2 linked regions of the Homo sapiens genome follow. The protein of the gene in region 1 interacts with the protein of each later gene in a pairwise test. Each region holds a gene or a part of one and is shown on either strand. Other genes may lie near its edges.

Evidence for each region. Proteins that work in one complex are often made in the same cells at the same time.
Region 2: the proteins of LAPTM4B (region 1) and SLC22A1 interact in a protein complementation assay, tested with the Homo sapiens proteins (one large-scale study listed by BioGRID).

What each region holds. Positions count from the first base shown.
Region 1 is NC_000008.11:97,799,788-97,803,287, reverse strand, and holds part of LAPTM4B (lysosomal-associated transmembrane protein 4B), read right to left. Parts: intron 1-3,500. UniProt on the Homo sapiens protein: Required for optimal lysosomal function. Blocks EGF-stimulated EGFR intraluminal sorting and degradation.
Region 2 is NC_000006.12:160,120,445-160,124,614, reverse strand, and holds the start of SLC22A1 (solute carrier family 22 member 1), read right to left. Parts: upstream 2,801-4,170; 5' UTR 2,680-2,800; coding exon 2,269-2,679; intron 1-2,268. UniProt on the Homo sapiens protein: Electrogenic voltage-dependent transporter that mediates the transport of a variety of organic cations such as endogenous bioactive amines, cationic drugs and xenobiotics. Functions as a pH- and Na(+)-independent, bidirectional transporter.

The DNA.
Region 1 (3,500 bases):
AAAAAAAAAGTTCATTTTTAAATGACAATCCCAATTGGTTATTTCAGGATTATTGTAGGATTCGAAGTAACTTTTTTTCTTTTTTTTTTGAGACGGAGTCTCACTCTGTCACCCAGGCTGGAGTGTAGTGGCACGATCTCGGCTCACTACAACCTCCACCTGCCAGGTTCAAGCGATTCTCCTGCCTCAGCCTCTCGAGTAGCTGGGGTTACAAGTGCCTGCCACCACACCCGGCTAATTTTTGTATTTTTAGTAGAGATGGGGTTTCACCGTCTTGGTCAGGCTGGTCTTGAACTCCTGATCTCGTGATCCACCCGCCTCGGCCTCCCAAAGTGCTAGGATTATAGGCGTGAGGCACCGTGCCTGGCCGGAATAACTTTTTTTCTTCCTGTATTTTCCAAATTGTCAAATAAAAGCTGATTGCTTTTCGAAAAAAATTGTAATAATGAGAAGAGCCACTTCCCAGAGTATACATATACATATAACTAATTTAAACAGATACTACAAGCATGTGTTTAACCAAACACCTGAACTGTACAAAGAATATATAGTGAAAAGTTACCTTCTCCGTCAAAGGCATCTGAACCAAAGCGACTCCATTATGAACAGGGGCTTGGTAAAATGTGGCTAAGACCCACTGGGCTGCACTTCCAGGAGGTTAGGCCTTCTAAGTCACAGGATGAGATAGGAGGTCGGTGCAAGGTACAGGTCGCAAAGACCATGCCGATAAAACAGGTGATGGTAAAGACGCCGGCCAAAACCCATCAAAACCAAGATGGTGACAAAAGTGAGCTCTGGCTGTCCTTATTTCTCATTATGCACTAGTTATAATACATTAGCATGCATGCTAAAAGACACTCCCACCAGCGCCATGACAATTTACAAATGCCATGGCAACGTCAGGTAGTTACCCTATATGGCCTGAAATGGGGAGGAACTCTCATTTCCGGGAATTGCCCACCCCTTTCCTGGAAAACTCATGAATAATCCACCCCTTGTTTAGCATATAATGAATAAATAATTATAGTATTATCAGTCGAGCAGTCCAAGCTACTGCTCTGCCTATGGAGTAACCATTCTTTTGTTTCTTTACTTAATAAACTTACACTCACTTTACTCTATGGACTCAATCTGAATTATTTCTTGCACGAGGTCCAAGAACCCTCTCTTGGGGTCTGGATCCCCTTTCCAGTGACATCTCCACAGTAATTATTATAACAGTATCTTGTTTCTCTCCAAAGATCCAAGAAATTTCATAGCACATTTTAAACAGTGTGATTAACAAAACTATCTGAAGAAAACTTTCTGTTACAACTCCAAGGCTTAAAGGAGCCACAGGCCAGTCCCACAACTGGCATTAAGATTTATGGCAAAGATGTTATTTGATAAACTGTCAAGTTTTCTTGGCATTTCAATCCCTCTATACTTTTTTTTTTTTTTTTTTGAGATGGAGTTTCGCACTGTCGCCCAGGCTGGAGTGCAGTGGCGCAAGCTCGGCTCACCGCAACCTCCACCACCCAGGTTCAAGTGATTCTCCCGCCTCAGTAGGAGCCTGTAGCTGCGATTACAGACACCTGCCACCACACCTGGCTAATTTTTTGTATTTTTATTAGAGACAGCGTTTCACCATATTAGCCAGGCTGGTCTCAAGTGATCCGCCTGCCTCAGACTCCCAAAGTGCTGGGATTACAGGTGTGAGCCACTGCACCCAACTCTTCTATACTCTTATTTTTGAGAAAAGGTATGTGGAAAATTGTGGACTGAAATAGGATCAAACGAAATAAGAAGAATGTGCTTTGAAAAATTATGAAGAGCTGGGCATGGTGGCCTGTAATCCTAGCACTTTAGGAGGCCGAGGCAGATGGATCACCTGAGGTCAGGAGTTTGAGACCAGTTTGGCCAACGTGGTGAAACCCCATCTCTGCTAAAAATAGAAAAATTAGCTGGACATGTTAGTGTGTGCCTGTAATCCCAGCTGCTCCGGAGGCCAAGGCAGGAGAATCGCTTGAACCCAGTGGGGGGCGGAGATGGCAGTGAGCTGAGATGGCACCATTGCACTCCAGCCTGGGCAACAAGAGCGAAACTCCATCTCAAAAAAAAAAAAAAAAGTATGAAGAACCACACAAGGGCAATGTACTCCATTATTGTTATCATAACAGGGTAGGGTTTTAAAGCTGAAATGAAAAAACATAAATTTGGGATTCATGGGCAAAAAGCTTTAGAGGAGGGAGCAGAGGTAAGGAGCTGGTCAGAGAAGATGGAAAGGTGAGGAAGTCGTACAGTGTGAGTCTGGGGTCCCGTAGGGCTACTTATGGAGTCTTGTTTTGTTTTTTTTAATTAGAGATGGGGTGTGTCACTATGTTGCCCAGACTGGTCTTGAACTCTCAGGCTCAAGTGATCCTCCTGCCCCGGCCTCCCGAAGTCCTGGGATTAAATGCGCGAGCCACCACCTGACTTTGTATTTTATTCTAAGTGTAACAAGAAGTCAACGGGGCTGGGCACAGTGGCTCATGCCTGTAATCCTAGCACTTTGGGAGGCCAAGGCGGGCAGATCACCATAAGTCAGGAGTTTAAGATGAGCCTGACCAACATGAAGAAACCCCGTCTCCACTAAAAATACAAAATTAGCCGGGCATGGTGGTGCATGCCTGTAATCCCAGCTACTCCGGAAGCTGAGGCAGGAGAATTGCTTGAACCCGGGAGGCGGAGGTTACCGTGAGCCGAGATTGCATCGTTGCACTCTAGCCTGGGCAACAAAAGCGAAAACTCCATCTCCAAAAAAAAAAAAAAAAAAAAAAAAAAAGAGGTCAAGGGGTAATATTACAGAAGGGAAGAATGTCATCTGGCCAGAGTTCAAATGAGTGAATATACATAAAATACCTAGACCGGTGACTGGCATACAATAGCCACTCAAATTAGTTATCTTACCTCTTCACATCTTAACAAGAACCATGTTAAAAGCTCTTGGTTACTAGTTTTCTAGATCTTCTAAAGCCAGTGTTAAGACACCTGCTTTACGCCTGTGCTTTCCCCGCACTCTCAGTCCCTAGGGACCTGTCAACTCTTAATCCGCTTATTATTCCCCCGTGGAGTCTACTGATCATATATAGCTACTAATTGCCTACAACACATATTTGCTAAGTGCTTAGGAAGAACTCCCTAGGACTCAGAACATGAAGTTAAATACATCATGTACCCAAAAAACAAAAAGCATAAAGCAATGAATGTGACAAGAGCTCCGAGAAAGAATCATGGAAGTTAAGGAGAGTTACAGTCAGGGGTTGCAGGGACCTGCAACAGAGATGGGAGCATTTGAACAGGAACTCAAAAGATGAAGATTTGGAGCCTGAGAGGTGTGGAAAAGAACAATTCCAAGTATGAGCAATGCCACTGAGACAAGGACATCTCCTCAAGACAGCAAGTTCAATGTGGCTGGAACGCCAGGGTCAGGGGGTATAAAAGGAAATGTTAGAGGATAGAACCAAAAATGTAGGATGGGG
Region 2 (4,170 bases), on another chromosome or scaffold:
CTTACCGGGGCTCACTCTTGGCCTCCTCATGCATCTCTCTACCTCTCCTGAAGCCTCCAATCCCACCACCGCCCCTTCCCACCCATTCACGAGTCCAGCTAGGGTCACCTTGCTTGCCTGCCTAAATAAGACCCAAACTCCTTTGTTGGGCACTAAGGTAGCGTTGCCAGGGTTCACAAATAAAAATACAGAATGCCCAGGTAAATTTGAATTTCAGATAAACAACTTTTTTTTTTTTAGGATAAGTATGTTCATGCAATATTTGCATTTCCAGTCTCAGTTATCAGTACCAAATATCATGCAGTATCTGGGAAGTAAGTATCCTATCCAGTTGGATTATCTGAAGTTCAAATGTTCGAGTTTAACTGGGCATCCTGTATTGTACCTGGCAACCCCACACTAAGCACTCCGTGTTCTGGCCCCAAGGTTAGACACCAGTGTTCTCCCCACAACTCCTCATATCATGACCCTCATATCAGTGCTCCTTGCACCCTGAATGCAGCAAACACTCCCTGGGCCCTGAGCCTAGGCTCAAGCTCTCCCCTTGGTCTGGGGATCTACTTCCCCTCCCCTCTACTCCACCTGTCCCCTCTCCTTGCTGGTCCAAATACCAGCTGAGGCTCAGCTCAAAGCCACCTCCTCCCAGAAGACGTCTATGATCAGCTCAGAGCTCAGCAGCTGAGATCTCTACCTTCTTAGAGCCCACCAGTCCCTTTCCGCCCTGCTCATGGCATTCACCACAGGCGGCCTTGGGCTGTCATTAAACGAACACTGGTCTCATTCTTGCCATCCTCTTCCCCTCTCAGTCCCCACAAGACTGCAGACTCCTTGAGGGACCTCACAATCTTCTTCTGCATCTCCCCTGCGGCATCACACCCAGTGCCAGAATAGAGGGAGTATGCCGAACATACTGGGTGGATGTCTGACTGGAGGAATGATCACATCTGATCTCCTCAAAGCAGAGTATGTCTCAGTCCCAGAGAGCAAACACATCCTCATCCTGGTCTGCTTCTAGATTCCCAGTGGGAATGTCAGATGGTTGGAGATCCCTGGAAGGTGGGCTGCCTAACTTGTCATCCATTGTTGGAGGATGCCTTGGAGACAAGATGTCTCTTCAGCATCGTAAAGCCAGTTGCACCGGCACCTGCTCTGCTCCAGGCAAGCAGGTAGAGCAATGCTCAGGCCCAGAGGGGAGGGACCCTAAGCTTTCCTCCAGTAATAGCCCTAAATGTGTCACCGCTGATACCACTCAGGAAAGGGAAAAGAGGAAGAACAGAGACCCAAGAAGTCCGGAGAGCTTGGGCGAGGGTAGTGGGGGCAGACAAGTGGGCAGGACCAGAGGCAGGGAGGGCCCAGTTACCTCTTATTTCAGGGAAGCAGTGCCTGCACCAAAACCACGCCACTGCTCGTTACTAACAGAAGGCCCCTGACGGGCTTTGGCCCACAGCTTCTCCAACCCACCAAGCATCCACACTTGTTACCGTGCAATAGTTTCAAAAGGGCTCATGATGGGAAAAAAATGTGGTGACACTTTTTACTAAAGGATTCTCAAAGCAAAATGCTCAAATAACCAAGTAAACTACTCAAGCAAGGCCCTTTTGAGGCCATCGCCCTATCCCATGGGCCCCATCGGACTGCACGGTGTGACTCAGTTTGGATTTGCTCAGTGCTTTCACAGATCCCAGCTGAAGCTCACACCCCTATGAGGCAGCCGTCATCATCCCTGGTTGACTGATGAGGAAATGAGGCTTAGAGAGGCAGTGACTTACCCAGTGATGCTCAGCTAATAAGGGGCACAGCTGGGATTCCACCAAATATTCTCACTTCCAAGCCAGGGCAATTCCAGGCCACCTCAACACCATCATTGAGGTCAATCGTCATCACTCTTGAGCAGAAGGAGGGGGCCCACAGTACTATTGGTGGGGAAGCGGGACCCAGAGCAAGTTGATAGTTCTGGGAGAAGCCAGTGGGGCAGGCAGAGAGGCTCCTGGTCTCCCAGTCAACTCCCATTCAAGCAACCTGGCAACCTGGCCCCCGACTTGTGCTAGCTGTTCTCTCCTGCCTCAGCTTCCTCCTCAAAGACCCAGAGTTTGTGGTGGATTAAACTAGAGAAGAGAATGCCCCGTGCCTGGGACACAGCCAGACACCCACGAACTGCACAATAAACATAGCCCCCTACCTCTTTCCTGATATGGAACTGAACTTCATAGGATTTGCTTTATATTTCTCCCTGTCCCAGGAACTCCCATGTTACAGAGGCTTTTTTACCTCAGTGACGATGGAAGAGCCGGGCGTGTCATACACCCAGCCATCCTGGCAGGGACCCAGCGGCAGGTGGCTCCTGTTGGTGGCCAGGCTAGCCAGGGGGTCTACACAGCTGAGGGCGCTCTGGTTCCAGTCCACTTCATAGCGCCTGCACTGGCCAAGGAAGGCCTCGCCCGCGGGCCCCAGGCCTGGCACTGTATAGTTCAGCTCCTCCGCAGGGCTCCAGCCACAGCGCTGGCTCAGCTCAGCCACCCCAGGACTCTGGCAGTGGTGGTCAGGTGTGAAACCCAGGAAGACGATGCCCACACAGATGGGCGCAAAGGCAGCCGACAGCAGGCATAAGATGAGGAAGGCTTGCTTCTGGAACCAGCCAGACTCCCCAACCTGCTCCAGAATGTCATCCACGGTGGGCATGATGGCTCAGCATGCTCATGGCCGTGGCCAGACCTGCTCTGGGCTGCAGTGGCCAGGTGCAATGTCTCCCTCAGAGATCTTTGAAAAGGAGTGGTTTGAAATCAGTTTGCTGTCCAAGTGTGAAACATCTGGAAGGCAACCAAGTAGAAATAATCTTTTACCCTATGGTGCTGGTTTCAGGAAAAGGAAGAATGCACGTGGCCATCTGATCAAATCGTTTGCTTTGCCCGGGAGCGAGTCAGTGGGGTCTAAGCCCGAAGAGAATTGAAGTTCAGCCACAGAGCAAGAAGAGGGCAGGAGAGCAGGCCGTGCAAACCTCCTAGTAGCTCCCTCAGGGCTCTTCCAAAAAGAATATCTACTTGTTTTCTAGATGTGATGGTATGAGGCAAGTATTGGGTGACAGCCAGGTACTAGATACTGTATTCGGCTAATTAGTTCTGTGATACCATTTAAGTATTTTTTTTAGTTTTTTTTTCCCATAGGTTTTGAGGGAACAGGTATTATTTGGTTACATGAGCAGGTTCTTTAGTGGTGATTTGTGAGATTTTGGTGCATCCATCTCCCAAGCAGTATACACTGCACCCAATTTGGGTGTTTTAAGCTCCACCTCTTCATTTGTGTGTGTGTATACATGTCTAGATGTGTTTACTTGTATGTACACTTACTGTTATATGTTGTGTCTACCAAATTGGCTTATAAGTAAAAGAGTGTTCATAAATTAAGTAAATAAGTCTAAGCAATTTTCAAATTCACTTAAGTATGACTTTGCTAAATAGGCTGTCTTTTAAATTATCAGTAAAATGAAAATAGAAATGTCTTCAAAATATAGACATGGTCTAAATTATGCAAGTCAGAAACTAGGTTGACTAAATGCTTTAAGGTCATAAACTGCTTTGGCTTTTGAAAATTGTTCAACTTTCCTGCTTTGCAGTTTGGTAGGGCCTGCCCTAGCTATGCTGGAAATAGTTAGACCTCATCTGCACCTAAGTACGTAACTAAAATAACTTACTGGGTATTTCACCAAAATTAACAATTACTAAGAGCTACCATTATAACATGTAGTGATGACTACTGAAAACAGATCTACACGTGAGGTGAGTAAGGAGAGTAAAATGTATCATTAGTAAAATAATATAAGAAGGCATGGGAATGTAAATTTTTGCCTAGTTCAGAGGGTTAAATGATTGTTTTAAATTATATAAGATAAAGCTTAAGGTTCAAACAAGTTATGGAAGGTTTGTAAAAAATTAATCTTGTAAAAGGAATCCTGTGTGTAAACATATTGACTACACTAAAAAGGATATTATTTGGTTTTCCATAAGTTGAACAATGGAATACAAGCACAACAAGGTTTTCTTGAAGCACTTACATGCTGTTTAACAAAAAAAATTTGTAAAAGGTTATAAAAGATTTATAACAATCTCAGTTCATGATCAAACTGATTAAGATTGGATGGATTTCTCTGTAAGGTTTTATTTTTTTTAATTGGGG